2 separate regions of the Homo sapiens genome follow, and region 1 is linked to region 2. The links come from fine-mapping of genetic effects on gene expression. A gene starts in region 2. The other region holds a variant in brackets. All regions are shown on one strand. Distances are between the middles of the regions. Region 1 has its middle 30 kb from the start of PKIG. Region 2 holds the start of PKIG (cAMP-dependent protein kinase inhibitor gamma).

The links. PIP is the estimated chance that this variant, and not a neighbour inherited with it, causes the effect.
Region 1: its variant is fine-mapped to the expression of PKIG in breast (GTEx, PIP above 0.99). The same link has a PIP of 0.9 or more in subcutaneous fat.

Annotation. Positions count from the first base shown.
Region 1 is chr20:44,544,235-44,561,128 of GRCh38, reverse strand. It overlaps a transcript of PKIG not described here. Among named protein-coding and RNA genes, the nearest start is that of PKIG, 30 kb to the left of the region's middle. The variant G/A (reference allele first, on the strand shown) is at 8,109.
Region 2 is chr20:44,575,687-44,592,580 of GRCh38, reverse strand. It overlaps PKIG (cAMP-dependent protein kinase inhibitor gamma), which reads right to left and starts at 10,002. Exons shown (of 4, transcript NM_001281445.2): 1 at 9,850-10,002; 2 at 2,715-2,784. RefSeq lists an enhancer at 12,922-13,061.

The sequences.
Region 1 (16,894 bases), 31 kb after region 2:
CCTGACCTGGTGATCCACCTGCCTAGGCCTCCCAAAGGGCTGGGATTACAGGCGTGAGCCATCACACCCGGCCCATTGTGACGTTTTTATCTTGGCTTCTATTTCTTTTTGCATAGTAAATACAGTGTTTTACATTCTGCATCTGAAATTCCAGTATCTCATGGCTTTGATACTTTTGTTGTATATGGCTTTTGCTAATTCTTTTCATGGTATCTTATTTCTTTGTGAACCTGGTTTTAATCCCATGTGCTAGTGATTACATAAAAAATTATTTAGAGGACTATTTTGATGTCCGGGATGATAACATCTTCCTCGAGAGAAAATTTGCATTTGCTTCTGCCAGCTGCCTGATGGCATTATTACTTGAGAACCATAATGATGAAAGATCTTGGTCTACATTCCCTACACCTAGAAGCTTGGTGGCAAGGCTATTGTGAGGGTTGGCTTAGTTCAAGTTCCCTCTTATGCCCTTAGGGGTTCCATTCAAACTAAAAAAGTGGTTTATCTGATTCCCCATCCTTGACGGACAACAAGCTAAGAATTCTGTCCTCATATATGAAGACACCAAAAATACAGCTTAACCTAAAAAATGCTTTCTCGGGATCAGCAAATGCTTCCAGAACAAAAATGGCTTTGGTAGCTATGCTTACCTGATAAATACTGAAACTCTATACCTCAGAAACTTGGACTTCCCTTTTCACCTGGTGTGACACTTTGTGGCTTTTGCTGAATATATGGCCATAAATAACTTTGTATCTTGTAAGTTAAAAGCCAGTTCACTTTGTAGATGGGAGTGTAAACCAGTGAAAGCTTCTAAGCATGAATTACAATATACATCACAATGGTATTTATTTATTTATTTATTTATTTATTTATTTAGAGACAAGGTCTGGCTCTATCACCTAGGCTCCTGTGCAGTGGCACAATCTCTGGTCACTGCAACCTCCGCCTCCCCAGCTCAAACCATCCTCCCACCTCAGCCTCCTGAGTAGCTGGAACTACAGGTGTGCAACACCATGCCCAGCTAATTTTCTTTTTTCTTTCCTTCTTTCTTTTTTTTTTTGTATTTTTTTCATATTTTCTTCTCCGGGTTTTGCCCATGAAAAAAATGTTGCCCAGGCTGGTCTGGAACTCATGAGCTCAAGTGATCCGCCCACCTCAGCCTCTCAGTTTTGGAATTACAGGCATGAGCCACCATGCCCGGCGCTACATCAAAATGTTAAATATACATACTCTCTGATCCAGCACAGTCTTCTTGAAATTAATCTCACAGATATACTTACAAAAATGCACAAAGACATAAATAATTTTCTTTGCAGCAGTGGTTTTTGCTAGTAAAAAATTGAATATGACAATCTGAATATTCACCAAGAAGTGGCTAGTTATTAATACATAAATTATGGCATGTTTATACAATAGAATACCAATGTAATGGAAATGTATCATTTTTTAAGTTTTCCAACATCCAGTCACTTCTTTCTATTTGGGGGTACTTCCCCATTGTGCATAGTCTCACTGGGACTCTGAACCTTAAAAAATGACACTATGACAAAGGAACAGTTGGAATTTATTCCTGACAGTGTCCAAGGGCAGTGATGGCAACATACTGGCCTGGCTGCTTCAGCTAAAACAGGATGATGATTCCCTGGCCTGCCTTGGTTCTGATAATTTGGAAGCCTTGTCTGACACCCCTTCTGTACATTCCCTGCTTCTGTTACTCAAAGCCAAAAGGTTTGTAAGTGATACAACCATGAAGTCATTTAAAAGAATAAAATGTATCTATGTGAACAATAGCAGTAGAATAGTTTGTATAATATGATCTCATTTATAGATTTTTTAAGCAACCAATAGATTTTATATTTATGTTTGGACATGCATAATTTCTGGAAGAATTATCCAGGAAATTGTTAAGAATGGTTTACTTCTACGAAATGAGAATGGAGATTTAGGGGAAAGGGGAGAAGAAATCTTACTTAAATATTCTGCACCTTTTAAAAACTTTAATTATTTTTTAAAAGTTTATTTTAAGAAGAAAAACAGGCAGATGAGATGGACTGCTCTGAAGCTGAGATAAACTGAAATCTTTAGGTGCTTATACATACTGAGGGCCATTCAAAGCCAAAGCCCCCTGTCATTCTTTAGGTGATAAGTGATAAGGAATGACATGTGCAAAGAAGGGTTTAGGCATAACTTCAGCAGAAGGAGCTTTATTAGCTGGGCACAGTGGCACGCATTTATAGTCCCAGCTACTTGGGAGACTGAGGCAGGAGCATCACTTGAGCTGTGGAGGTGGAGGCTGCAGTGAGCTGTCATCATGCCACTGCACTCCAGCCTGGGCAACAGAGCAAGACCCTGTAAGAAAGAAAGAAAGAAAATGAAAAGAAAGGAAGGAAGGGAAGGAAGGGAAAGAAGGGAAGAAAGAAAGAGAAGAGAGAGAAAAAGAGAAAGAAAGAAAGAGAGAGAGGAAGGAAGGAAGGAGAAAGAAAAAAAGAAAGAATGAAAAAGAAAGAATGAGAAAGAAAGAAAGAAAGAAAGAAAGAAAGAAAGAAAGAAAAAAGAAAAAAAGAAAGAAAAAGAAATGTGAGGTTGGACTGGAGTGTTGGCAGTAGGAATGGAATAGAAGGGAATAGTCCAAAAGATAAGATGATTTTCTCTCTCTTACAATTATTTGTTACCCAAATACTTACTATTTTAGAGTGTCAAGCACAGGACAAAAGATATCTGAACTTTACCAAAATCAACCAATCGATCAATCATATAGTCCACATATCAAGTCTCAGTTCTCCCACCCACAAAATGGAGAGAATAAAATGCCTAACTCATAGGATTATTATAAGGGTTAAAGGAAGCTATGTATGTAAAATATATGAAGTGTTCCATAAATGTTAACTACCAGTACTACTAATATTACTATTACTACCACAATGATGAGGACAATTTAAAAAGCAACCTCTCCGTATATTAGAATAGGACTCAAGTATATCTAAATAGCATACCTTTCAGAAACACATTTACAGTATGGAAAGGGATGGCATAGAGTACATATTCATTGTCCTTTTTAAAAATATTATAGTCATTTAAAGACAAAGTTTTATTACTAATGACTAGTGATTTTATGGGGGTTATCTTATAGAAAGCTAGTCAACTTTGGAGAAATAGTGAGGTTCCTAGTCCCTCTGCTATGCAAAGGCTGCCTCCTGAGTTCTCAGACATGGAAAAGCCTTAGGAATCCAAAAGAGCACCAAGTCTCATGTTTGTACCATATACTCCACCACAGCTTTTTTTTTTATTATTTTTTATTTTTTGAGATGGAGTCTTGCTCTGCCACCCAGGCTGGAGTGCAGTGGCGTGATCTTCACTCACTGCAAGCTCCACCTGCCAGGTTCACGCCATTCTCCTGCCTCAGCCTCCTGAGCAGCTGGGACTACAGGTGCCCGCCACCACGGCTGGCTAATTTTTTTTTTTTTTTTTTAGTAGAGACAGTGTTTCATTGTGTTAGCCAGGATGGTCTCTATCTCCTGACCTTGTGATCCACCCACCTCAGCCTCCCAAAGTGTTGGGATTACAGGCGTAAGCCACCGCACCTGGCCTTTTTTTTTTTTTTTTTTGTCACCTGTCACCTGTCACCCAGCTGGAGTGCAGTGGTGCGATCTCGGCTCACAGCAACCTCTGCCTCCCAGGTTCACGCAATTCCCCTGCAGCAACCTCCCGAGTAGCTGGGACTACAGGCGCTCGCCACCACACCAGCTAATTTTTGTCTTTTTAGTGGAGACGAGGTTCCACCACGTTGGCCAGGCTGGTCTCCAACTCCTGACCTTGTCAAGTGACCCACCTTCCTTTGCCTCCCGAAGTGCTGGGATTACAGGGGTGAGCCACCGCGCCCAGCCCACCACAGTTCTTAGAGACCAAGGAATAAGGGTATAGTTTTTTTTAAAACATTTACTGTTCAGGAAAGGCTGAAAAATAGTACAAAGAAATGAAAAGTACAAGTCCCTCTCATTAAGTATAGATTACTCTAAATACACTGAAAATCCCAATAAAATCATTTATTTATATACGACCTTAATAGAATAGATAGATGCATGGCCCCCTTTTTAATTTTAATTAAGTACTCATATTGCAAGATGCATAAAACCCCCAGCAGTTTATTTTAAAACTGCAAACAATCCTGGAAGGCTTGAATAATGAGCTTGACAAATTGGAGACTTTTATTCCACTATCATAAAAATAATGAGTGGGGCTTTTTGAAAAGCATGGCATATTCCAAAGGTTTAGAAGAAAGAAAATCTTATGAAGGAGACTTAAACCTATATATCTAGTATTATTTTTACATACCAATTTGAGAAAACTAATAAAGCCAACAAATATCTATCAACCCTCTACTCTGCCATAAATAAAAAAGAAAAAAAGAAATGTTTCACTTGGAATCCAAATTTAGTACAGATCTTCATTAACTTACTACTATTGGCCAGGCGCGGTGGCTCATGCCTGTAATCCCAGCACTTTGAGAGGACAAGGGGGGCAGATCACCTGAGGTCAGGAGTTCAAGACCAGCGTGGCCAACATGGTGAAACCCCGTCTCTACTAAAAATACAAAAATTAGCCAGGCATGGTGGCACACGCTTGTAATCCCAGCTACTCAGAAGGCTGAGACAGGAGAATCACTTGAACCCAGGAGGCAGAGGTTGCAGTGAGCCGAGATCGCGCCACTGCATTCCAGCCTGGGTGACAGAACCAGACTCCATCTCAAAAAACAAACAAACAAACAAAAATCTTACTACTAATATTAGCCAAAAGACACTATTATGGCTAATAATTAAGTTTTGGTTGTAACATATGTGGGATAATGTGATATATAAGCCAAACACACTTTTTTTAAGCTCAGAGATTCAGCTAAATGAGAACAGAAAATAAAAAGATTATTTTAGGTAATAAATGATGTAGTTGTTCAGAGTAATAAAGCAGCAATAAACTTTAAATTAGGTCTCTAGGCTGGGTGTGGTGGCTCATGCCTGTAATCCCAGCACTTTGGGAGGCCAAGGCGGGTGAATCATGAGTTCAGGAGATCGAGACCATCCTGGCTAACAGGGTGAAACCCTGCCTCTACTAAAAATACAAAAATTAGCCAGGCATGGTGGCACGCACCTGTAGTCCCAGCTACTTGGGAGGCTGAGGCAGGAGAATCGCCTGAACCTGGGAGGCAGAAGTTGCCGTGAGCAGAGATCACGCCATTGCACTATTCCAGCCTGGGTGACACAGCGAGACTCCGTCTCAAAAAAATAAAATAAAATAAAATAAATAAAGTAGGTCTCTAATATTCCTCCCAACTCTTGGGTTTTATGACCTTATCACACAAGTATTTTCTTGTTAAAAAAAATGAGGTTCCCTAGCAAGTGGACAAAAAATAAATATACATATATGTGGAACAATAAAATAATCTATACACATATACACACACAAAATGAGTGGGAGTACTAAGATGAAAGAAATATTTTCAGAGTATGAACAGGATGCTTTTCAGATGAAATCCTCAAGTATCAACAAAGAACTGTGGGTGAGCTTAAATCATGTGGGCCTAAACTACTCTGTAACTTATCTAAAGCCAACAGGATGGTATCTCTGAATTTAGACACAGAAAGATACATGGTAGTTTGGATATTTAGAAGGATTTAGTTTAAAGCCAATGTTTACAAGAATATTTATAAACTTACATAAAACCTATAGAATTTGGCAAGCTTTGGAGAGACAAACAAACAATTCTGGTCAGAAATGAACTTCCTGTAAATAGATGTCAGTGTTTTGACAGTACACTGTTAAGCACTATTCCTTATAGTTTTTGTAAAAGGAATAAAACAAAGGTAGAGAATACACACATCTCTCAATACATTTTCATGTTTGTTTACTTGTTTGTTTTCAATTGAAATTAAAACATTTCTTAATTTCTAATACTGACGATAATTCTATCGATAGTATCTTTTCTTTTTTCTTTAAGAATAACATCAACAAAAATAATAATGACAACATCAACAAAAATAGCACAGTAACATGTTAAATGATTTCTGGCAGTCTGTCAAAAATACAGATATTAAAACAGATATTAAAATAGGACACTTAAATGATATTAAGCTTCAACAAATCTGTAAAACCCAAAACCGTAACAATTTTTAATACCCTACTCTCAGAAAAGAAAAAATGTCACATTACTATAGAACAAAAGTAAATCAATAAGATGATTATTTTCCTGTATCTTATCGAGTTGGGGGAAATCCTGTCTCTGTAGGTGCCCCCACGCCCCCTGCCCTTTTCAGAAGACTTTCTTCAAACTGCAGGTAGCCTGGAAGTCTTCCCAGAAAATCTTTGAAAAAACACAGTCTGTTGTCTTCTGCATAGACACTTTGGATCTTACAAAGCACTTAGAGGTTTGTCCTCTGCTAAAAACAAGTTAGGAAAACCAAGAATCTGTTTTTTGCCCCCAAGCTGGAAGCTCCTGCCCACCAGCAAACTACTGCCTATTCCAGCTCTGTCCCCACTGGTACTTGCCACCCCCTCACCCCCTCACCCTTGTCCCAGTTCTTAGCTAGCAATTAGCATCAAGTCTGGACCCTGCTCAAAAACCCATCCTTCCCCTTGCTCTGACTACCAAGTTAAAAGTTCCTACTCAAAATGGGGTGTTGGTTACATAGGTATATGCATTTGTCATGAGCATTTCACTATATGTTAAATTTATCTGGATTAAAAAATTTTTTAGGCCTTGCACAGTGGCTCACACTTATAATCCTAGCACTTTGGGAGGCTGAGGTGGGTGAATCACTTGAGGCCGGAGTTCGAGACCAGCCTGACCAACATGGTGAAACCCTGTCTCTACTAAAAATACAAAAAAAAAATTAGCCAGGCATGGTGGTGTGTGCCTGTAATCCCAGGTACTGGGAAGGCTGAGGCACGAGAATTGCTTGAGCCTGCGAGGCAGAGGTTGCAGTGAACTGAGATTGAGATCATATCACAGCACTCCAGCCTGGGCGACAGAGCAAGATTCTGTCTCAAAAAAAAAAAAATTTTTTTTTAAATTAATAAACTGGTCTACAATGCTCTGCTGTCACTGTTAGCTTCTCTGAATTTATTTTGTGCCAAACTTCCCTCTCACTGTCCTTTGGTCACTTTTTTCAGCTTCTCCAAGGGCAAGCTCTTCTCTCGACCCCAAGACTCATAGCTCATTTCAGCATGTAATACTCTTCAGCCAACCCCACATTCCCCTAACTAACCCTTTTCTCCTAGTTAATGCCTACTCACCCCACCAGACTCAGCTTGGGTGCCTTTTCCTCCAAGGAGCCTTCCTTCCTCCCCTCACCCGTGTGCACAGGAACATGTTCACATATGCAGGCCAAGGCATCTCTCTGTTCCCTTAGCATTTACTATAAACGAGCATTAGAGTATAAGGTCCATGACAGCAGGCACTATGTTTTTATTAGTCACTGTCATAACCCTAGCACCAAGTATATCACAGATGATCAGTAAATGTTCATTTAATGAATGTTAAATGAAGGCACAAAGATATCAGTCATTCTGATCTATAAAGCTTCCTTCACCATTTTGCTGATCTAATGTGCTGTCTGGCCTCTCTGTTATCTGAAATCCATCTGTGAAGCTACCACAGCTCTGACTCTAATACTGCTTGGGTTTCCTATCTCAGAAGAGCAAACTTTCCAGGTTCAACTTAAGGCAACCATTTTCAAAGAGCAAAATGTGTTTACTCTTAACATGTACACTTCAGGCACTTGTCTAACCTCTCAGCCAACAGAAGTGGTTTGTCTAGACAAGGGTTTATGTGAGATATTCACTACATGGCGTTGGTCATACTGGCACTCCGAGGCAGCATAAACTTTAGCCTTTCCTGGGATGGAATTAATGACCTGATACCTTCAAGCTTTCAACTTTGGAAAATCACAAAAAAGTAAGTCAACTGATTCCCTAAAAATTCTCTCTCTTGCAAGGTTGTTATGAGGCGGTGGGAAGAAAAATGAGAAAGATGAGTCAGTGTGAGTCAGTGTTAAGAAAAAAGCTCTGCTTCTGGTAAACAGTTTGCTCTTTTACTGACAGGACTAGGATTACCC[G/A]ACTCCCACTTCTAAAAATACACAAATAACAGGTGGTATACATTATATAAGTGGTTCCAAAACACAGACTCAGATCATTGACTCTAAAAAGGGAACAGTTAATCAGCAATGAGCCAGACCTTCCCCAGAGCCTGCTTCTCGGAGAAGCCCCCAGACTAAGTAAGCATTTCCCTAAAGACAATTAAGATCCTAAATGCTTCCACTGCCCACTCAAGTGACCTAAAGGAATGACTGAACCTCCCTTACAATAACAACTACTTCATGAGCACCTACTACGTGCCAATAACTCTGCTAGGCTTCATACAATTCATCTTTAAACTTTACAACAATCCTGTAAGATGGTTGTTATTATCCATGTTTTACAGATAAGGAACCTGGCGCACAGGGGTTGGGTTAGATTTATATACAGTTGCATAGTGGCAGCACCAGATTTGATTCAAAAGTGCCTGCTTGTCTCCTTTCATTCCAAACTGAATTCAGAAATATATATGAATTACCCTGAGCAAGGCAATGCATCAGGTACTGCAGGGGATACAAGCTAGAAAAGGCTACTCCAATTATCAAGAAAGCAAAATTGGAAGTAAATGAGACTATGTAGGAGAGCTTCATCTCTCTATTTCCAAGATCCCAAACAAGGCCCGCCACACATAAGTTGCCCAGGAAATTACTACTGAAACATATGTGGAAGAAAAGGGAAACACACAATCAAATGTAACACAGGCAGTCTGTGCTTAGTGTCACAAGACAGAATGTGCTGTGATGATTTAGATTGTATCCTGATGGATGGCTTTGAGAAATACGCGCAAACAACGTGGCATTTGAGATAAGTCTGACAAACAGACTGACAGACAACAGAGAAAAGTAAAGAGATCAATGGAATATGTCAGGGGTAGTAACAGTTGAGACAAACCCTTTGGTACCTCTAGCAGCACAGGGAGAAATAAAGCTAGAAGAAACAGATTCTACATTGTGTTGGCCCTGAGTCTGCTTCAAGTCCCTTTTTATATAGAAAAGTGTAGCAATTACGAATATTTCCTAGCCGATTCCAATACACGGGGAGACACTCTTAATGGTTAAATAAATAAAAATCTGCTGTATAACCTTTTGTGGAACAAAGTGGTGGTGGTAGAATACAACAGAATAAATGAATATTTGTTTACAAATCTAGAGCATATGTGGTTGTAGAACTAAAGGAGAATTACAGATAAGTTCTACCACCTTTATTACCTCAACTCTGAATCATGATGATAAGGATTCTGTGACAGCACATTTTATTTTAATTTAACCTATAGCTCCTTCAGCAGAAGACCAGTCAAGTCAATGACACTCAACAGGCACAGCTGGCTAGAGGACTTTCTGGAAACGGAGGGGATGGGAGGCATTTTTTGGTTGACACAACAGTCAATTGTCTCCTCATTCAAATGGGCATTTAGTAGGTAGAGACCAAGATGTTAAACATCCAGCAAATTGAGGGGCTGTCTTATAGAAACAAAAATTGTCCCTTTACTCTGCTTGATTTTTAAATATCAAGATACTCATGTAAAGCTCTTTACAGTTATCTGAACCTAGAACTCCACTCCTTTTTGTCTGTAGCAAAGTACTTTTGCATGATTTTAGAGGCAATGTATTTTCCAAGAATGCATTTACCAAGTAAAAGGAAAATGTTGGGCCGGGCGCGGTGGCTCACGCCTGTAATCCCAGCACTTTGGGAGGCCGAGGTGGGCAGATCACAAGGTCAGGAGATCAAGACTATCCTGGCTAACACGGTGAAACCCCGTCTCTACTAAAAATACAAAAAAATTAGCCAGGCGTGGCGGCGTGTGCCTGTAGTCCCAGCTGCTGGGGAGGCTGAGGCAGGAGAGTGGTGTGAACCCGGGAGGCGAAGCTTGCAGTGAGCATCACTGCACTCCAGCCTGGGCGACAGAGCAAGACTCCGTCTCAAAAAAAAAACAGGAAAATGTTGCTTTGTTTTGTATTTAAGGAGTGAATTATAATGTCCATAATATATTTTCAAATAGTTCAGCAAAAAATTGAAATACACACATGCAGATAAACTATATGCAGCAAAATGTTAACAATTGTTTGGGCTAGGTTTTTGATACAGGTGCTCATTGTACTCTTGTTAATTTTTTTCCACATTTGAAATTTTTCATAATAAAAAGCTAGAGGGGAAATCTGGCCCTCATTAAGTGAGAGGTCATAATAGAGGTTAAGACCACTGACTCTAGAGCTCTGGGACCTTAGGCAGGTTACTGTCCCGCTCTCTGCCTCAGTTTCTCCATCTGTAACATAAGGATAATAATAGTACCTATTTCATGGAGCAGTTGTAAGGATTAGATGACTTAACAAAATGAAAGTTGTGGCTGGGCACAGTGGCCAAAGCTTTAGCACAAAAACGCCTGGGAAAGCTTCACCAGAGTCCTTCTCCACCATGACAACACTCCTCCTGCTCATTCCTTTTATCAAACAAGGGCAATTTTTGCGAGATTTCAATGGGAAATCACTGTGCACAGAAATCATTATGCATCCACCTTACAGTCCTGATTTGGCTCTTTCTGACTTCTTTTTGTTTCCTAATCTTAAGAAATCTTTAAAGGGAATCCATTTTTTTTTTCAGTTAATAATGTAAAAAAGACTGCATTAATATGGCTAAATTTCCAGAACCCTCAGTTCTTTAGGGACGGGCTAAATGGCCGGTATCATCACTACAATATTGCCTTGAACTTGATGGAGTTTATATTGAGAAATAAAGTTTATATTTTTCATTTTTATCTTTTAATTCAATTTTTTCCATGAATTTTTTGAAGTCCCCTTTTATGTATCTAACAACGCTTGTGTGAGAATTAAATGAGATAATATATATAAACACACAGCACAATGGTAAGCACATACTAGATGCTCACTACATATTTAAATGAAAGAATAAAACTGGTCCTAAAGATTCAATACATAAAAAACTAAGGTATACCTCAGGTGCTAGATAAAATTCCCCCAGGTCCTTCAGAAGTTAAAATTAGCTCCGAATTCCATTTTTAAATGATTAACAAGGAAGATCAAAGAGTACATTTAGATCTCTTCCTAACTCCCTTTTCACTGAAAGAGATATAATATTATCAAAGAAAAGTAAAGAATTCCTATAATTACAAAAATCCAAAACTTTTCTGTCACTTTCTCAAATGGAAGTTTGTTTTCTTTTGAGAAAAGATCTCATGCTGTTACCCAGGCTGGGGTGCAGTGGGGCAAACACAGCTCACTGCAGCTTCTACCTCCCGGGCTCAAGCCATCTTCGCACCTCAGCCTCCCAAGTAGCTGAGACTACAAGCATGTGATACCATGTCAGCTATTTTTTTCCATTTTTCGTAGAGATGGGGTTTTACTTTGTTGCCCAGGCTGGTCTTGAACTCCTGGGCTCAAGTGATCCTCCTGCCTTGGCCTCCCAAAGTGCTGCGATTATAGGTGTGAGCCACAGCGTCAAGCCTTAAATGGAAGTTTAAATTAGAAGTAACACATCTTCTAGTACAACACTGGCTGGATGACTACTGGAGATGATTTGTGCGGGAGCTTTTGAAAAGAAACATCAACAAAGTATAACGAAATCTCCAGAAAAATAATCCAGAAAAAAAGACTGTGTAATAGAACATTTACACAGAACAGTATATGGGGAAAAAAACGAACAGTTCATATGTCACTGGGACCAAATGATAGCTTCAGGATATTGCTCATTTTGAGATAAAACTGTATCTTGTACGTGTTTTTTTGTTATCTGGGCATAGAGTGGGGGTTTAGTTTGTTTGAATAAGTAAGTCTATAAAAGTACAAGATGCTATAAATCACAAATACTAAGAATGCCAAAAGTTTAGTATCTGAAAAAGCAAAAATCAAACTTTTAAAAAGTCAAATCCAAAAGGCAAGTGGTAGTTTTAAAAGTTTTAAAACTTCCTGAGAATTTAAGTCTGCAGCATTGACTTTCTGATCTGGGTTTATATAACTCTCATACCCAGGGGATGTGACAGCTGATTTTCTTGTCCAAACAAACACTGCAGAAAATTATTAAAACCATCAGGGATATTTCATTTCTCTTCCCACAGTATCTAATTATTATCTCAGACAGATATATGTGTGTGTGTGTGTGTGTGTGTGTGTGTGTGTGTGTGTGTGTGTGTGTGGTGGGAGGAGTGGCTGGATGAATGTCCTACATAATTAGAATTCTTTATAGTACTAAGGAGAAGGCAAAGTGTTTTGAAGTCTTAAAAGAAAACTGATTTTCTAAAGAAATTCTGGCTTTAGGAAAGTAGCTAAGTGATGTGTGGATGACAGAGCTATCTTTAATTAGGAGTTGAGCAAATTGTTATAAGCAAAATCTAGACAAATAAAGATGCTGTTTATATTTCAAAGACGGGGAAACAGACTGCTACAAAACTTGTCCAACACAAATCCCCAGCAAATAGTTTTCCTTAGGAAAACTATTTTTATCCCTTTATCAACTTGGTTGATAAGTATTTCATTTTCAGTGCATATATGGACAAGCTACATAAAGTAAAATTGTTTTCATTATTTAAAAAACATTTTGCAAACGGAAACAAAGCCTATTGTCCTGTAATGTTTATTTGCTAGGCTGACAAATGACTCTGCCACGAATATTATGAAGTCTCAGAATGAGAATACACAGAAGGAATTGGCTTGACTCCCGAAAAAACCTCCAGAAACATGGTCCCTCCCTCCAGACTAGAAAACCACTCTGGAAAATTGTGATTAATGTTAATTAACCCAGAACATATTTACATATATTATTCCACTGCCTGTGTGGGATAAGATGCTACCTTTTTTGGGTTTTTTTGTTTTTCTAGACAGTCTTGCTCTATCATCCAGGCTGGAGTGCAGTTGTGCGATCTCGGCTCACTGCAACCTCCACCTCCCAAGTTCAAGTAATTCTCCTGCCCCAGCATCCTGAGTAGCTGGGATTACAGGTGCACAACACCACACCCGGCTAATTTTTTGTATTTTTAGTAGAGACGAGGTTTCACCATGTTGGCCAGGCTGATCTCGAACTCCTGATCTCCAGTGATCCGCCTGCCTCAGCCTCTCAAAGTGCTGGAATTACAAGTCATGAGCCACCATGCCCAGCCTATTTTTAATGGAGAACAGGGTTCTCCATTAAAACCAACACCATGTTGGTTAGGCTGGTCTCAAATTCCTGAATTGAAATGATCCGCCCACCTTGGCCTCCCAAACTGCTGGGATTACAGGAATGAGCAACCGCGCCCCGCCAATGCTATGTTTAAGATGTTATTACTATTCCCATTTTTTCCGACGAAGAAACTGCAGCTCAGAAAGGTCGGTGTCCAAAGTCACCAAGTTAGTAAGTGCCACAGCTCCCACATTCAGCTCCCACAAACTACGCAGGAGTGATAGTAATGGTGGTGGGAGCACTTAGGCTGTACTCACCATGTGTGAGGCATTGTTCTTCCCACTTTCCTATGTCAACTCAAGTGATCCTCAAGACAACTCCTATGAGGCAGGTTTGTATTTGGGCCACCAGCCTCCTCTTTCTCTACCCTGCTCACCACACATGGCCTGCTTCTCTCCCCACAAAATCAAAATCAGCATCCTGATGTCATCATATTCTCTCTACCCTTATCCTAAATCAAAATTTGCTCTAAAATGCTGGTAATTGTTGAAGCTTGATTATAGATAATGGAGGTTTCTTTATACCATTCTCTCTACTTTTGCTTATATTTGAAATTACCTTATAAACATTTAACATTTTTTGCTCCAACACGGAATGTAAGCTATTGAAAAGGCTACAAGACTAGCTCCACTGACAATGAATTCAAAGGAAGTGTTACTGAAGATGTCTATGCAATAATAGAAGACAGTGACATTGATTCATTCTCTCATTCCATGAACATAAATTGAGCACCCATTGTATGTTAGGATGTACAGAGGTCCAAGGAAGGACTCCTGTCCTCAACAAGCTAAGAGTTTAGTAGCAGACACAAAATAAACACAAAGGTAATTATGGAGGAGGACTATTTATGAGAAATGTTATAAAAAGAAAAGTTTGAAGTGCTATGTGATTTGGAAAAAGAAATAACATCAGGACAAATTCCATTACATTGAACTCCCTGAGACATTCCAAACTTCACATTATTTAAAATCAGTGAGGGGCCTGGGTGCAGTGGCTCATATCTGTAATCCCAGCACTTTGGGACGCTGAGACGGGTGGAATTACCTGAGGTCAGGAGCTCGAGACCAACCTGGTCAACATGGTGAAACCCCGTTTCTACTAAAAATACAAAAATTAGCCGGGAGTGGTGGTGCATGCCTGTAGTCCCAGCTACCCGGGGGGCTGAGGCAGGAGAATCGCCTGAACTGGGAAGGTAGAGGCTACAGTGATCCAAGATTGTACCATTGCACTCCAGCATAAGCAACAAAGTAAGACTCTGTCTCAAAAAAAAAAGAACTCAAAAAAACAAAAAATATACTAGAGAAGATGTCTCTGGAAAGAAGTTCACCAGGGCACAATTTATAATGACCAACAATAAGGCCTGGTGATATTCATTTCAATTGATACACAGTAACCCATACATAACAACTTAAGAAACAAAGTAGAAGTTCTCTCCTTGATGGAATCAGAACTAATAATGGTATAACTCATTTTTTAAAAAATACAGTTAAAGAGAGGAATCATTAAAAATGCATGTTTATTTTCCAAATACTGGCTAAGGGATGAAAGCCTCTCCTCTCCTCTCTCCTCTCCTTCTCTTCTCTGAGACAGGGTCTCTCCCTGTCACCCATGCTGGACTGCAATGGCATGATCATGGCTCACTGCAGCCTCAACCTCCCTGGGCTCAGGTGATTCTCCCACCTCAGCCTCCGAGTAGTTGGGAGTACAGGCATGCACCACCACAACCTGCTAATTTTTGTATTTTTTGTAGAGACAGGGTTTTGCTGTATTTCCCAGGCTTGTGTCTCGAACTCCTGGACTCAAGTAATCCACCTGCCTCAGCCTCCCAAAGTGCTGGGATTATAGACATGAGCCACTGTGCCCAGTGAAGGCCTTTTCTTGAGAGTAAGTTCAAGCAATTAAAGTTTCTGCATGAACTACACTCATGATGTACATCTATGATTTTCAGTTTTTACTGGAATGATACTTGTGAAGTGTTCTGAAGGCAGAAACATATATGTATATATATGTTTTGGAGACAGGGTCTTACTCTGTGTCCCAGGCTGGAGTAAGTACAGTGGCGTGATGATAGTTCACTGTAACTTCAAACTCCTGGGCTTAAGTGATCCTCCCACTTCAGCCTCCCAAGTAGCTAGGACTACAGGGACACACCACCACATCTGGCTAATTTTCTTTTTGTAGAGACGGGGTCTCACTGTTGCCCAGATTGGTCTCAAACTCCTGGCCTCAAGTAATCTTCCTGCCTCAGCCTCCCAGTGCTAGGATTACAGGTGAGAGTTACCCTATCTGTCAGAATCTCCATATTTTTATAATTTTTTTCTTCAATCTTTTCAGAGGTCTCTTCCACCCCTAATTTGACAAAAATATTTTTTCTTAGCCATTTGCCTTTATCAGGTAAGCACATTCAACTTATTTTTCATAAAAGCAGTATCTTTTTTCCTTTTTCCCTTTACATTTCATTGGTTAACATAATATTTAATTATTTTGTAATCACAATAATAAAACTAAACAGGCTGGGGAACAAACCCAGTTGATTCTTATTGATTGTCACTGTTAGCAACACATTATGAACAAATATTTATAATGCAGGCCGGGCATTGCAGGCGCAGTGGCTCACACCTGTAACCCCAGCACTTTGGGAGGCCAAGGTGGGTGGATCACCTGAGGTCAGGAGTTCGAGACTGGCCTGGCCAACATGGCAAAACCCTGTCTCTACTAAAAATACAAAAATTAGCTGGGCATGGTGGGGCACGCCTGTAATCCTAGCTACTCCAGAAGCTGAGGCAGGGGAATTGCTTGAACCCAGGAGGTGGAGGTTGTAGTGAACCAAGATTGTGCCACCGTACTCCAGCTCAGGCCACAGAGCAAGATTCCATCTCAAAAAAAAAAAAAAAAAAAAAAAAAAAAGAAAGAAGGAAGGAAAGAAAGAAAGAAAAGAAAAGAAAAGAAAGAGGAAAGTCAATGTAAAAACTGCAATTTTCTCCAAATACAGGGTATAGCTGACATTGTTGGCCGCCTCCTGTGGTGGGCACTGCCCACTTCCAGGCTTGTATCTATTTCTCATTCTTCCACAGCTGCAGAATCCCTGTTTTGGGGAATGGCAATGTGTACAGCTAAGAAACTGCATTTACCAGCCTTCTTCACAAGTAAGAATGGACAATGAGATGTAAACTGAACATGGTGGTTGGGACTTAGGGTACTTTAAAGGGTGTCCTCTGCCCTCCCCTTTCCTACTTCTTCCTGCCTCAAAGACCGTTTGGCTAGAGAGCCAGAGCCAACACGTGCGACCACTTGGTGACTGCAAGCTGTGTGATAAGCATGGTGAAACAGAAAGAGAGAAAGATCTAGGCTGCCTGATGGCACTGTGGAACTGCCATGCCAGGAACAGACTATCTACTTTGGACTTAATATTTTTTGAGAGAAAAATAACCTGTCTTCTTTAAAGCACTGTTATCAGCAGCCAACACAATTCCTCTTCGACCAATCTACTCAGCGTCCATTCACCTACTCATAGAAAAAAAAAAATTTTCCTAACAGAAACACAATTCTGTTTCTGAATGGTCTAGAGATAATTTCATCCCTCTTGTAAATGGCTTGT
Region 2 (16,894 bases):
GTGCAAAGGAAAGCAGCCTGGGAGATGAGCAGGCACACTCCTAGCTGCCAAGCAGTTTGCCCATAGGGTGGGAAGGCAGCTGCCCTGTTTAATGCACCTGGGGAAAAGGACTGATTGAGAGAAGTGCTAAATGGGCATGTTGGCCCCAGGATTCAGTTCTGGACCACGTTTTGGTTATCTGAGGGCTCTGTACAGGATTTTCAAGGTTTGTAAGAGAACAGCTGTCCCTTGATTCCTCTGTGTCCTCTGCACTGTCTGAAAGGTCTGAAGGAGCACCAGCAGAATGGCAGATGCTACCCACAGAAGTCAGAGAGCACGAACTCCAGACTCCGGCCCTTCTCCTTCTTCCCAATTGTGTCACTACCAGCAAGCAGTTCCACCTCTTTGAGTCTCGGTTTCCTCATCTATCAAATGGAGATAATATATATGTACTTCATAAGATCAAACTAAATGAGGCTGAGAAGGATGTAAGTGCTTATCACATCTGGCACATGGCTTAAATAATAGTTCTAGCAGCTCTGCCCAAGCACTCTTTTGTCTGTGGGTGGTGCCAAGCACACACCTGGCCTTCGGTCAGTGTTTGCTCCCTCCCCTCTGTAGACCGGTCCTTCTTGGCTGCAGGGAGAGGGAGCTGTGAGACTGATCCTGAGGCTAGGGCTTCTTCACTGCTCTCATCCCAGGCGATAAGCTGCAGCGACAGGATGCACTTAATGTGCGCTTGAGGATTTCAACAAATCCTTACATGGCAAACGAAACAGAGAGATTTCTCTGGAAGCCCTAGCTGGGCATGTAAAATATCCATGATATTTTAAGATATCATGATGATATCTCATGAGATGAGAGAAAAGAAGAGTAATACTTATTATCTTCATTTAATAGATAAGGAAGCTGAAGCTCATAGGTGTGAAGTGACTTGTCCAAGGCAACCTGTACACTCTGCTTTACACTGGGTGCCCCCACCCACCCACCCAGCACCACTTCCTCTTTTCTCCCCAAGGAGTCTATCTTATCTCAGACTTCGGGCTCTGTCCTTTGCCTTCTTGAAGTTCCAAGGGAAGGAGGAGCACAGGCGCTAAGAAGAGAGGTGATGAGAGTGGGCCAGGCAGAGTGCGGAACTCTCTCAGTCCCTTAGAACTCTCTCAGTCCCTTACCCAAACTGAAGCTAGACAGTCTCCTTCCTAAGCCTGACTCACAACTCTCCCCTGCTTAAAGCCCTCCAGCGACTTTCCATTCAGAGCCATCAGGATAAAGTTCAGATTCATTCATGGACACCTCCAGACTCAACTCCAGCCAGGGAACCCCCTCTGCACTGTGTTTGGCCCATGGAATTTCCATGGAGTGCTGCACCCCCCAAGCCTCCAGGCCTTCGCTGTGCTGCTCCGCAAGCCCCCAGCCTGTCCCCGCCCACTCTTCTCCAAGTCATCTCCTGCATACCTTTCAAGCCGCAGCACCCTCTGCCCACTAGCCCTCTGGACCTACCGCAGACTACTGCTACTAGTCTACTGTCAGCCAGACCCACAAGCTTCCTGAGGGCAAGGACTGTGCCACTTTTGCTTTGTTATCTGGTGTCCAATTTATAGAAGATGCTCCATAAATACCTGCTAAATTAATGTAAAAATGAAAAAAACTTTTCCTGGCTGAGGCAGGAGTCTAAACTGAGCTGCACCAGACACAGCTGCAATGTGCCCCCTACAGTGCTGAAGAGAGAGAAAATCACAAGACCTTCTCTCTCCCATGCAGCTTTCAGTCCTCACACCATCCTTAGCTTATGGACAGATGCACAGTGGATTCGGCAAGCTCTTCAGAGCGATGCGCTCATCCCCAGGCTCTTTAGCCTCTTTGTGAAAATTCCAGCTATGGAGAAGGTCCAGGTGGGTGTAGGCCAATCTAGAATAGCCTTCAATTCTGATACCTTAACAACCACATCCATGGATGCTGATGGATGCCTGGTGGGTGAAAAGATCTCTGTGGACCCAGTACTTCCAACTTGACAATTCAAAGAAATTCACCAGATTTGTTGATAAATACTGCTGCTTTAGGTAAAAAGTCGATTATTATGTTACCCTGAGTTTAAAATTATTAACTTATGCCAGAAACATTTAGATATCATAAACTATGGACACTGGACCCAAGGTGGCCATACTGCCAGGTGGGCCACTTGTGCTCTTTGAATGGCAATTTGTTCTCAGCTGGAGGGACTGCATCTTCATCCCTTCTCACCAGACTACTGGGCCGAACCCATTTCTTTGGGTTGGGTTTTGCTGGCTTTTGCTCCTCTATTACAGCATTAAAATGAAAATTCCCATAATGTGCCCTGGTCTTTGTGAAAACAGCTTTACAGCAAACACTTGGTGGAGAGGAAAGCTGGCACCAGGCCCAATGTTGCTAATAACTCCTGTGTATGATTCCACCTGCTTAAGCTTAAGTACATGGCCGGGAAACCCATCCCCTCTTAAGCCACCAAAGGTAAATTTTCTTTCTGATGCTATTAAAAAAAAAACGCCTGAAAACAGAATCTTGACTGTGAAATTGTAGCATGCTGTTATGTATATAACTTCTGAAAAGAGCCATCCTGCCTTTTCTTCATAAGGTCAAAATCTCCCACTAATTTAGTTTGGAACTTACGTATTTTCTTCCTTCAACCAGAAATAAAGATATTCAGGCAAAAACGTGTGCTGCTCTGGCAGTAGAGTATGAACAGTGCCACTACCTACCTGGTTTAATTTCTTTTTCCTGCTTGCATCTCTTCAGATTTTCCACTGTTGACTAATCAGTACGGGAATTCTAAGGAACCAGAAGAAAAACAAAAATTAGAGCCAGACATACTCTGGGATTATAAATTGAAACAATCTTTTGGGAAGACAAGTTGACAATATCTATTAACTTGTTAAATGTGCATACATATCCTTTGGGGTCAAATTCCTAGACACGTCACATTCCTGAAATGTCCAGGAATTTATACTACAGATATATTTACCTAAGTAAAAAGATACTCAGTGAAATACTGTATAGTAGCAAAACCAAGGGGCGAAAACAACTTAAATGTCTATTAATAGAAAAATAGTTAAATTATGGTGTATCAATATCATGAGAAACTATACAGCAACTTCAAAGAATGAAGGAGATTTCATTGTACTGATGTGGAAAAAAGTACATGCTTGATTGTTAAAAAGCATATTGTAAAATTGCATATATTATCATTTTTTAATTAAAAAAAGAACTTTACATTTTCTTTTTAATTTTAAGAGACCAGGTCTCACTCTGTCCCCAGGCTGGAGTGTACTGGTGCAATCATAGCTCAATGTAGCCTCAAACTCCTGGCCTCAAGCAATCATCCACTCTCAGCCACCTGACTAGTTGAGATTACAGGTGTGAACTACTGTGTCCTGCTCAAATGTGAACATGATTATTTATGTTTAGAAAAAAAAAAAGTACAGCATTTGTGTACGTGCACATTTTTAAAAAGTATACATACTTTACACTTTAAACAATTTTCAGTATATATAGAAAAGGGCAAACTGTAACCAATGGTTCCCCCTGGGAAACTTCTCTCTTTTGAAAAAAATTATTCTCTTTTGAGAAATTGTGAGAAAAGAAATGAAAGACTTTCACTTTGTACATTATCTATTTCTGTTTTGATTGAAAACTTTTAAAGAGGCATGTATAACTTTCACATTCATTACACATGCTATGCAAAAAATTCTATATCTAGCTAACATATCAAGTGTGAGGGCAAAAGATATTTTCAAACAAAGACTGGGCAAGTTTACCATTCACAGACCCCAAGAATATTCTCCAATAGAAAGGAAACTGAATACAGAAAATAAGTGAGATTTTTAGAATCAATAATGAGCAAAGGAAGGAATAATCCAGCACCCTTCTTTACTCCCTCTCCCTCCTTTACTCTTGGTATAAGTGACTCCATTTCTTTTTTTTTTTTTGAAAGTCTCACTCTGTCACCCAGGCTGGAGTGCAATGGCACAATCTCAGCTCACTGCAACCTCTGCCTCCCAAGTTTAAGCAATTCTTCCGCCTCAGCCTCCCAAGTAGCTGGGACTGCAGGTGCGTGCCACCGCGCCCGGCTAATTTTTGTATTTTTTTAGTACAGACGGGGTTTCACCATGTTGGCCAGGCTGATCTTGAAATACTGACCTCAGGTGATCCACTCGCCTTGGCCTCCCAAAGTGTTGGGATTACAGGCATGAGCCACCGCGCCCAGCCCTCTTCTCAGTTTGAATACCACCTTTTCAAGGAAGACCCCAGCCACACTCTCCTCTTTCACTCCCCCTGCTTATTGACTTCTTAACGCCACCATTTGTGCTTGTAAACTTCATGCAGGTAAAGGCCATGCCTGTTATATTTAACATCATCCACCTATCACCTTGCCCAGTGCCTGGCGGATATTAGGTTCTCAACAAATATTGGCTAAATACATGAAAAATTTATTGAAGGCTCAGCTCAAATGCTACTGCTCCTCCAATCTCTTAGGCTTTCTACAGGACTCTGTCCCCATCTTGGGGCACATTTTCACAATGTGTTCATGTTATCTGAGTCTTTTTTTCCTATCCGGCCATGAGCAACCTCAAAGTCTTATTTACCTCGACATTCCCCACCGCACCTTGCATAATGCCTAACACATAAAGGGTTCTTAGCAGTAGATGAATCTACACACACGTCCAGGAAAGTATAAATGATGGCCGCAGGCTCTAACCAATTGCAGATAGTAGTGATTGGAGCCCACAACACAAGCACCTTTGAGATATGCAAACAAACATGAGACTTTGCCCAGGGAGAAATTAAAATTAGAGCTAAACTTGAAATACAGCGGTATGTGGGTGGGGGGATTGGGAGACAGGCCCTTATTCAAAAACAGAGAAGTGAAATCACTGAGTGATGATTTATTTTAAGTGTGTTTTTCTGTACTATCTAGCTTTTCTTCCCTTGAACATATTCTAATTTTGCAATCAGAAAAAAAAAATCCACAATAAATGTTATAAAAACAAACCAACGGAAAATCAGTGGTGATTTTAGACTACAAAAGTCACCCGTCCCTCTGTTTCCTTACTACAACTTTGGACTTCAGATTCAGGGCCCTCTCAGGTGGGGCCCATACATTTTGTAAGGAAGTGTTCTTTCCACCCCTCTGAAGCCACGGGGGATAGGAAGGTGCCAGAAATGAGTGCTTCAGCAGGGGCAGCTCTCAGTTGCTCCCTAATGCAAATGCTGGCAAAGCTCCCAGAGCCAGGAATTGTAGGGAGAGAGCAGAAGGAATCAACCCAGCGCAAGATCAGGACCTCCACAATATGCTGATCCAGTGTCTGGTGTTTTGTAGCACTTGTGCATATTTCTTTTGCAGTACTTTTCACGTGCCATTAAAATTATTCACTCCTCTGTCTATCTTCCCTTGTTGCACAGAGAATTCCACAAGACCAGAGGCAGTGTCTTTACCCTGGTCCTCTAGTTCAGTGCTTAGTACTAACAGGTCCTCAATGTACATTTATGGAATGTTAAAGACTACACTGATAAAGTACTAAAACAGTAACTGACCTAGGTTCCTGGGACATAGTAAGAATACACCAAATACTTTCTTCGGTGCCATGAAGGGCCATTATTCAGTTCTGAAGAGTCAAGCTAAAGCCTGTAATTTCTTGAAACATTAAAGAGACTTCTTTTTGGAAATGCAGCTTCCTCCAGTAAGAGCGGATACATTATGTGTTCTAATCTGCAATTCATAATCAGTCAGCATAGGAGCCCACGGCAACTTCCAAAGAAACCACTCTTTGAAGGAGCAGTACTCCAAGTTTTCCTAAGACATTTCTGAAGGATTTCCAGGAGGTAGTGAGCTCAGCCTAGGGTCATGATTAATAACCTGTTTCCCAGAACTTTAGATTTTCCACCTCAGTCTCCACTTAGGAATTGCTTCTGGCCCCTCGTGAAAGCATTTGGCAGAGTTAATTGGGCCAGTTCAGCTTCTTGTCTGTCACAGCCAGCACCTGTTACCAGCTTCTTCCTTAAGTGGCTGGGCTAGGGTCCTCTGGTCCCAAGAGAATAGCACCCACTTCTGCTTTTGGCCTCAGCACTGGCTGGCTGATTTGAGGTTCAGCATCACTTGACTGGGTGACAGGAAATAATGCTGAGGCTTGGTTTGAAGAGCCAACATGGCAGCTCCAGGGTTCATCACAGGGGTTTCAAAATGATGAGTTCAAAGATAACTTCTGGTTCCTCATGCAAATGCCATCCTATGTCTGAGGGGGCAGATGCCTGTGTACATTGGCTGACATTCTCTTTCTGGAAATTGAGAGCAGCTAATCCTAAGCATGTATTTTTGTACTAACTAAGTGCTTTATGAGCCCTATCTCATTTCATCCGCATGGCACCCCTTTGAGGTCAGTATGACTGTGACCCCCCACTTGACAGAAAGAGAAGTAGGTTCTATAAAGTGAGGTGATCAGTCCAGGATCTCCCAGCTAGGAGGCGGTGAAAGCAGAGCTCTTACCTGCTATCCCCTTCCAATTTCTCACTGAACTCGAGAGCTCTCACCTGCTGTCCCTTTCCAATTTCTCACTGAACTCAAGAGCTCTCACCTGCTATCTCTTTCCAATTTGTCACTGAACTCTAGAGCTCTTACCTGCTATTCCTTTCCAATTTCTCACTGAACTCGAGAGCTCTTACCTGCTACCCCTTTCCAATTTCTCACTGCCCTCTAGATTGTCTAAATCGAAAGAAACGGTAGACACCAACCAGATGCAGGGCTGCAAATTCCCACAGGGGCCAGGGGCCAGGCAGGAGACTAGAGGGCACAGGGGAATGCGCAAATGGTAATGAACTGGAGAACACACCTGCCTAAAGGCATTCAAATTAAAAACAAAACACCACTCTGACTTCTGACTAGAGTTCACTTGTCATCATTTAACAGATGGAGCAACTGAGATCCAGGGAGGTGATATGAAAAAGGCACTGCAGTATGGTGAAATATTCAAGGGCTTCGGGGACAACCAGTTCTCATTGGGAACTCAAGCTCTAGCCCCTGCCAGCTGTGAGACTCTGGGCAATCCACTGCACCTCTCTGTGCCTTTCTTAGGTGTAAAATGGAGATGATCTCTGCCTCACATCATTGCTGTGAAGATTAAGAGAAGTCAGCATATGCAAGATGCCCAGCCCTGTGTGTGACATTTATTTCAGGAAGATACCAAAGCCAAATGAGATCTCTGGACACATCTTTTCCACAACCTACCTCCACTCCCAAGATGCCCTAAACTCACTGCCGGGAGTGACTGAGGTGGGAGAGATCAGCAAACACACACTGATAACAGGAGCAACTTTGACACACAAAACAAGAACTGAAAGCCACCCTCATCTGGTACATGAAGGCCTACCTAGTTGAGGAGTGTGAGGCATTCCACATTTCCACTCTCCACTTCCTGGCAGGGACCACAAAGTCTAGGTACCTTCCTTCCAGAACATCACCTCCTCACCACCACCTTAGGAAAAAGGATGCCTTTTTTGATTACCCCAAATCTCAAGATCCCAGCGGGGCTGGGATGAAGCAGAGGATGCCCTGGCCTTCCCACTGCCCATGCCCATGGGTGGGTCCATGGCAGCAACAGTCCACCTTCATGGGATGAAATGCTGGGGAAGACTGCAGCTTTAGAAGTGCCAAGAGACCCCATCTCTACTAAAAATACAAAAATTAGCTGGGCGTGGTGGCAGGCGCCTGTAATCCCAGCTATTCGAGGGGCTGAGGCAGGAGAATCCCTTGAACAAAAACGGGAGGTGGAAGCTGCAGTGAGCCAAGACTGCACCATTGCACTCCAGCCTGGGAGACAGAGTGAGACTCCGTCTCAAAAAAAAAAAAAAAGAAGTGCCAAGGGCCTTTGAGAACCCTCTTATTAACTAGGACCTTAATTCAAACAAATAGTTTCTAAATACCACAACTTCCTGAGGATTAGGGTCTCTGATGCCCTTAAAGAAAACAAAACAAACAAACAAAAACAAAACAAAACAAAGCAAAAACCTTAATTTGTCAAGACCCGGCACCTTGGAAACTCAAAATTCAAGATCTGACGTCTTTTGCTTTTTTTTTTTTTTTTTTGCACTCTGGCTGTGGCTATCCTTCCCTTGTGGCAGGAGAGGGTGGCTCTATGTTAAATGATGAAAGAGGGGCAAATAGAGGGATTTTCCCCCTTCTTCTCCCTCTTTCTTGCCAAATGAGGAACTAGGATGGCGGGCTTTAAGTTTAAATTAAGTTGTGTCTCCTTTGTACCTATGTGCCAGGCTTTCTACTAGGCAGTGGGGCATAGTGATGGGCTAGACAGACACGCAGAGAAGGTGCAGATGGTCTAGTGGAGACATGGGGAATTGAAGTTATGCCAGTAATTATGTAAATACAGTTTAGTTCAGGATAATATGAAAACATATAAGTAGATGGTTGTCCTCAGTCAATGGGGTTAGGGAATAATACTGACCATCTAGTGCTCTGTAAAGGGTTGAGCATAACATAGGGCCTAGTGCTTAAGAGATACTCAATAATGCCAATTCCTTCTTTCCTCTCTCCCCAAGTGTATGTGCTAGTGTATGCGTGTGCACATACAGTTACCACTGAGACTTTTTCTTTCTCTTTCTTCAAGAACACCTAATCTGAAAAAGACCCATAAAAACTCAGAAGTAACTTAATGTTGCCTGTTTTATGTCTTCTTTTAACTGTCCTACAGGCACCCGTTTTTAGCTACTCTGGGAAACTGAAAACCTAGGGTCCTTTGCTCCTAAAGCCATAAGGGCCCAATACAAAGGGAAAAGAAATATGGACAGTTCATTTCATACTGAATTTGGAAATACAGAGATCATCTAGTTTTGTCCCCTCATTAGGTACAAATAAAGAAACAAGACCCAGAGAGTGTGAAACACTTGCCCAAGGTGACAGTTTCCTTGGGTGACCCTTCTAATATATGGTAGCTTTTTGTTGAAGCTGAAATCTTCCCGTTAGCTGTAACTTTTCAAATATACTTAACCTGCTAAGAGGGGACACCTCCCCTGTTAGCACACTGCAAGCCATCTCAAGCCACCTAGGAATCCTCCTCAGTTCAGGGACCCACCAAGTAAGGGACCTGGGTACAGCAAGGGCCCCCTCTTTCCCTCTCTACAGAGTAGCTTGCTTAGTTTCAAACCCTGAAAACAGATACCAACAAATAAAATGCCTAAAGGCTTACATGTCCTGTTTATATTCCAGGCATAAACAGCAAATTTTTAAAAGGAAGCAATAAAAAGATCGCAAACCCAAGGTTAAAGATTTCCAACCCCTTTCCATCTTGGAGTTTTCCACACAGCTGCTGCAGCACTGGGTTTATATGTGGTAAATTCATGGAGTCTGACCATATCTGTAACTGAAATTTAACACAACAACCATGTTCCTGAGGGGGAAGATAATAGGGAATTTTCACTACTTTCGGAGACTTTTCTTTCTAGAATGTTTAAAAATTATTATACCACCTTTGTAATCAGAAAAAAAGAAAGGGTTTTACAAACACGAATTTCTTAGGGAAGATTTATTTCTTCACCTATATTTGGAGCAAGGAGCTGCTTTTAAAGCTCTGAATACTCTGTCAAAGTTCTTTGAGTAAAAATGAAACAGCATCTGAATGGAGCCCATTTGTGAGACTGGAGGCTCCGACTAGCCTTAGGCAGTTTCAGACAAGGCCATAATTTTCAGAGCAAGCTCACATATATCATTATATAAAAATAGACATTTTGTGGCCAACAGGCTGGAAAGCAAGCTCTCCAGAGAGCTCTGCCTCCAAGCTCTGCTTCTCCCTGGGGGTGTTGGGCAGGGGAGGAGAGTAAAGTTCTACTTACAAGACCAAAGTTTCCTCAAAATCCAGTGGTCCTCAGTCAGAAGCGGAGGCAGAATTTAAGAAACCAGGATTCAAGGTTAGCAGTCCAGACCTGTGGTGCGGGCAGGATTCTCACTTTACCCTCCTCTCTGTCTCTTCCCCGTGTCTCCTAAATGAAAAGCACTTTGAGGTTTTAGTGGGTGTTTCCCATGTCTCGGGCCAAGTAAGTCCCCATTTGTTGTAATCCAATGCTCAGCCTGATGATGTCAACCACACAACTCACTCACTCAGTTTCCACCTCTCTGTCCACAGGAGAGATCCATTTCCTTTGGACAATGAGCCAGGGGGCTGTAACTGCATCCCAGGCCACCACGCTTGCCTAATATCCTTCCTTCAATTTTCAACCCTGCAGCTTTAGTGACAAAAGGCTTCCTATCCACTCACTGAGCCAGGGTTCCTGGGTAAATTCCTTTGCTTCTTAGTGGGTTGTCTGCTTTCCTGTGTGTTTAATTCCTTTCTTTGGTATATAATATACTAGTTAGGGTGGAGATCTTCACCCCACCCCACACCCATCTCTTTCTTCCTGCCCAATTTTCCAAGTTGTTTCATTTCTCCCAGGTCTCCTAGGTACATGCTGGGCACAGTACATGAGTTTGTCCTTCATGTAGGGGAGGTGATGTGTGCCCCCGGGGAAGGCTTGGAAACAGCACTGGTGTGTCCCCTGGGAAACTGGGTTCCAGTCTTGGTCAGGCCTTCAACTGAATGAATGACCTCAAGCAAGTCACATCCCTCTCTGGACCTCAGTTTCCCTATCAACAAAATGCTGGCTTTGGTGCTTTCCACTTCTGAGATTCAATGAGTAAAAATCAGTGACTGGGGAACTTATAAACAAATGCATTATAGAGCATTTTACTACAAGCTACCCAACTACATGCTTGAGGGAAGGAAGAACCCTGGAGAAGTCAGAGGCCACTGCCCAAGATGCCAGGCTCAGCTGGGCACCTTTAACCCCCTTTATGAAGGAGATGAACAGATTCTCTGGGAGTAAAACCAAAAGAATTCACTGAACAAGTCCTTAGGGACATGAAAAGCAGCAGCATAAACTACAAGATAAGACAAACAAGTAACAGGCTATAAGTGTCCTTAGGGACCAACATGGAACAGCAGTGGTTACGAGAGATCATTTCTTGCATTTGGAGAGTGCTTGATGGTAAAGACAAAGAACATCTCTCTACTTTCGTGTACAATGGGGAGCGAGTGACATGCATAGTGGTTAGGAACATCATTTGGGAGCCACAGATGTGGATCTGAGTCCTGTCTGACTTAATTTCTCTGAACTTCAGTTTTTTTAACTGTCAAGTGGGATACTAGTGCCTCTGTTTTAGGATTGTGAGAATTAAAAAACACATGTAAGGAAACTGAAAGTATTTGGTACATACTAAGTATTGAATAAATGTTTGCTCTCGTTGTACATAATCTCATTTGATTCTCATAACATCCTTAGGAGAATCAGATAAGTGCTATGAGGCTACATTATTAATCTCTCCTTCCTGGATAAGAAGACATATACAGAGAAGTTAGGTGACATGCCCAAGGTCACACAGCTCAAAACGAAAGGGACAGAATTAGAAATGAAGCCTCAACTCCTAACTAGGTCAGCACACATGCCACACACATGCCAATGCCAATGCCATTTCTCAAAGTGGTTGCCGCAGCCAGCCTGGGAAAGGAAACACTCAGGCCACTAGGTCAGAGAGGCTGCTTTCCTTGCTTTGCTACCCAAATCCTGTGTGGCCTGAAGCAAGACTGGGCTTCAACTAACTCCCTCAAAAGGAGCAGATCTGATCTGTTTCAATGCCACTTTGATGGTGATGGGAAGGTAGGACCGGAGCTTTACTGGGAAAGCGGCTCTCTATAGGTAAGGAAGAGGCTGTGGTAATTTGTGGTTTAACAAGAATTTTTATTAGTTCTCAGAAAACACAGATGCTTATCAGAAAACATCCAAGAAAACAGGCTATATTAGGAGGGAGTTTGTCAATCTGAAGGCTTTTCAACAATGTGACAATGTGACGTAGGACTGCTGTGGAATAAAAACCACACCAGCCTGGCCGGGCGCGGTGGCTCACACCTGTAATCCTAGCACTTTGGGAGGCCGAGGTGGGTGGATTGCCTGAGCTCAGGAGTTTGAGACCAGCTTGGGCAACACGGTGAAACTCCATCTCTACTAAAATACAAAAAAAATTAGTCAGGCGTGGTGGCGTGTTCCTGTAGTCCCAGCTACTTGGGAGGCTGAGACAGAAGAATTGCTTGAACCCAGGAGATGGAGGTTGCAGTGAGCCGAGATTGCACCACTGCACTCCAGCTTGGGCGACAGTGAGACTCTGTCTTTAAAAAAAAAACAAAAAACAAAAAACAAAACAAAACAAAAAAACACCAGCCTGGTAACCCACAGAGAGCAGCCGTTCACAGCTCAGAGAGATGTGGGCTTCCTTCTGGTCCCTAGACCTTCTTGCTGTGCTTTGGTTTCCCAGTGTAAAATGAGAAGAATAACAGCCTTACTCTCCAAGGTTCTTGTGTGGGTTATGTGCCTGGCACATACTATACATTGAAAAATATTTGAATACTTCTTGTCTAATTCTGACCATTTCATCATCCTTTGCCCTAATGGTGATGTGACAATGAAAGAAAGTCAGAGATTGGTCGGGAAGTCAAAAGGGTCCTGTATTTCTCCAGAATGTCACGATGAGTAATGAACAAAAGCCCACCCAGAGCTGTAAGGCCTGTTCTCAGCAGCAACACTCAGTTTGGAGGGACTGGAGGTCAGGGCTATTGTTTGGCTGAGCCTTTATTCCAGAAGACTGAGTAGGTGTCAGGAAATGAGGCTGGGCTCTTGAAGATGGGTGCTTTGAATCATGTTTTGTTACTTGAACAAAAATAATAGTAAGGAGCCCATTCATAAAAACAACATCATTTTCTTCAACAACATGTACTCTGTATCACTTCCCTTGTGAACGGAATAATTCTACGTCTGTGACAGAATCCCGGAAGACAGAACCATAGCAACACTGGCACATTCATTTCTTCTTATAACTGACAATACTGGACACACTTATGTGGGCTGGGGCCAAGCTGTGCACTGAGCACTCTATGAACACCACTTCATGTCATCCTCACAATAATCGGGTGCAGGAGACATTATTAATATTCACATCTTACAGCTGTAGCAACAGATGCATGGTGAGCCGACCAACCTGCTCAAAGGCTCACGGGAGCAAGGGGCAGAGCCTGCACTCTAACTAGGGACCATGTGGTGCCAGTCCTGAATCCACAACCCCCTTGCACTACCACCTCTTAAAGGGCTTCCCTTCAGGAAACTTGGCTGTTTTTCACAGACAGCAGCATCAGCTCCATTTGAGGATGAAGGAAACTTTGGCTGTTTAATTCCACCTTTTACCCCCAGTTTAGAAGGGGTCTCTCCTTCCTCTGAATTTCCTTAGTATGCTCTGTTTCTCTCTTAAGAAACATACCCTTTTCTCTGATGACACATATTTAGTTGGGGGCAGGTCTTTTTTCTCTGCCAGAATCCTAACTTTTTAAGGAAAAGATCTGTGTCTAATATAGCAGCATTTTGTACATATTATGAGATACTTATTAAAATAAGGAAATCCATAAACAAACCCCAAAACTATTATTGTATATTTACCATATGCCAGGTAATATTCTGTTTATTTTATTTATTTATGTTGTAGAGACGGGGGTCTCACCATACGCCCAGGCTGGTTTTGAACTCCTGAGCTCAAGTGATCTGCCTGCCTTGGCCTCCCAAAGTGTTGGGATTACAGGTGTGAGCCACCGTGCCTGGTTGTATTCTAACTGCTTTATATAAATTACCTCATTTAACCCCATAAGGATCTCTATGAGGTAGGTATAATTATTATCCCTGCTTGACACATGAGAAAATCACAGGCACAGATTGATTAATTTGTTACGCAGTGTTAGTCCGTTTGCACTGCTATAAAGGAATACCTGAGGCTGAATAATTTATGATGAAAAGAGGTTTATTTGGCTCACAGTTCTGCAGACTGTATAAGAAGCATGGCACTAGCATCTGCTTCTGGTGAGGCCTTAGGAAGCTTTTAGACATGGTAGAGGGAAAGGAGAGCCGGAATGTTGCATGGCAAGATGGAGAGCAAGTGTGAGAGGGAGAAGTGCCAGGTTCTTTTTAAACAACCAGGGCCAGGCACAGTGGCTGACGCCTGTAATCCCAGCACTTTGGGAGGCCAAGGCAGGCAGATCACCTGAGGTCAGGAGTTCAAGACAGCCTGGCCAACATGGTGAAACACCGTCTCTACTAAAAATACAAAAATTAGCTGGGCATGGTGGTGCACACATGTAGTCCCTTGCATTTTTTTTTTTTTTTTTTTTGAGATGGAGTCTCAGGCTGGAGTACAGTGGTGCAATCTCGGCTCACTGCAAGCTCCGCCTCCCAGGTTCACGCCATTCTCCTGCCTCAGCCTCCCGAGTAACTGGGACTACAGGCGCCCACCACCATGCCCGGCTAATTTTTTTGTATGCTTAGTAGAGATGGGGTTTCACCGTGTTAACCAGGATGGTCTCGATCTCCCGACCTCGTGATCCGCCCACCTTGGCCTCCCAAAGTGCTGGGATTACAGGCATGAGCCACCATGCCCGGCCAAAATAATTTTTTTTAATTAAAAAATAACCAGTTCTCACTTGAACTAACCGAACAAGAACTCACTCATTACAGCAGGGAGGGGATCACGCCATTCATGAGAGATCTGTACGCATAACCCACACACCTCCCACCAGGGCCCACTTCCAACACTGGGGTTCACATTTCAACATGACATCCAACAGCTATCCACCAATATAGTTAGACATCCAAACTATATCAGCTAGCAACTGACGGATATCTGTTGAAGGAGTATATGAATAAAGAAATTCTGGCCACCACTACCCACTTTCTAGTCCACACAGCTGCTGTACAGTGCAATCGCTCATCACCCATCAAAGGCAGGTTTCAGCTGTCATACCATTTCCAACTCACTTATTCACTGTGCCATGCAGTTAGAAGGTCCATGCTTTTTCTAGACAATTAATTGAGAAGTATATTGATTGAGATTTACGAATAAAAGTAGATTTTGTTTTCTTCCAATTATAATCATAATTGCTTATTGTAAAAAGATAAGAAAATACAGAAGAACAGGAAAAAAGAAAGGAGAACAATACATCGTCTCACCACAATCCTGGTGTAAGGCCCCAGAGAAGGAACCACACTTACACTTAAAACAATGTTCTTGGTCAAGCACGGTGGCTGACGCTTGTAATCCCAGCACTTTGGGAGGCTGAGGCGAGCAGGTCACTTGAGGTCAGGAGTTCGAGACCAGCCTGGCCAACATGGTGAAACCCTGTCTCTACTAAAAAAAACACAAAAAAATTAGCTGGGCGTGGTGGTGCACACCTGTAGTCCCAGCTACTCAGGAGGCTCCCAGCTACTCGGGAGGCTGAGGCAGGAGAATTGCTTGAACCTGGGAGGCAGAGGTTGCAGTGAGATGAGATCATGCCACAGCATTCCAGCCTGGGTGACAGAATGATAATCTGTCTCAAAAAAAAAACCACACACACATACACACAATGTTTTGAAATCAGAAACTTAAGTCATTTTTGGGGGATGGGGAATCAAACCCACAAAAGATGACTAAGACATTGCTCAACGTATTTTTTTGGTTTTGGAGTACACGTGGCTGCTTTTTCTTCAGGGTTCGATGTCCTGAGGATCCACTTTGTGGTCCCCTTTGGACTGCTGATTTGGTGTGTCTGAAGGAGAGCCAGAAGGAGAAGAGAAGCCTGACCCCAGTGATTATGTGGCTAGAAACTGGATAGGTTCGCAGGATATCACACTGTCCCCTCCCTGCCTTTTTTCAAACCACTTCCCACCAGCTTGAGATAAGTTTCCAACTACAGCTGTTTTGGGAGAGATGGACCTTCACTTAAACAGTGACCTTAACTTTAAACAGTCTTGGACTCATTGATTTTTGCAGCTGAAAGGAGCATGTGGTCTCCTCATTTTAGGGGTGAGGAATGCCAGATCCAGAGAAGGCAAGGGACTATCCTGAGGTAGTACAGCCTGGTGCTCCAACAGGAGAAGGTTTGAGGCTCTCACTTGCTACTCTCTATTGGTCTCAGACTCTCACTTGCTACTGCACTTTGACATACAAATTTGAAGGGCTCTTCCCTCTTATTTTGGTTAACTCCTACTCAGCCATCAGATTTCAGATTAAATATCACTTCCCTAGGGCGCCCTTTTCTCTGAGCCACGTTAGCTCCCCCTGCTGTACTGGTCTCATGGTACTCCTATGTCTCTTCTTATAACCCTTAACATATTTATAAGTACACGTTCCATGTGTTTCCCCACCAGACTGTAAGCTCCACAAAGTCAACAGTATGTCTCCTTGGTTCACTGAATACATCTATCCCAAGTGCCTAGAAGAGTGCCTGGCATAAAATAGGAAACTCAATAAATATTTTCTAAACACACACACACACACACACACACACACACACACACACACACTCTACTTAGTCCAGTCTATGGTAAAACATTAACATACTTTTTGTAAAAAGCACCACGTCTTCTGAACTACAAATTGGGCCTTTTTGCTGAAGGAAGGATCATTAGAGAACAAGGGATTTCATTTCAAATAATTTCCGGAAGATAGAAAAAGTTCAGAGAGGTATGACAACAGAAGCTGAAGTTTGGAGCACAAGGACAAGAAAGCACCATTGGAAATGAGAGACAAGGAATGGTGTGGGACCCCAGGGAGGCTCTGAACCTGAAGACAGCAGGCGTCGAGAAGATTCAGAAGGGCCAAAAAATTAAGGGATCCACTGAAGGTCCTGTGCCAGCCAGCTCCTCTATCCCATACCTGCAGCACACAGAGGGCCCAAAAGCTCTGCAGAACCACAGCCAAAGACAGGAGGCCTCTTTAAATAAATTGAATGAACTGCCTAGGATTGATCGAGGGCTTCTAGTAAGAGACTGGCCT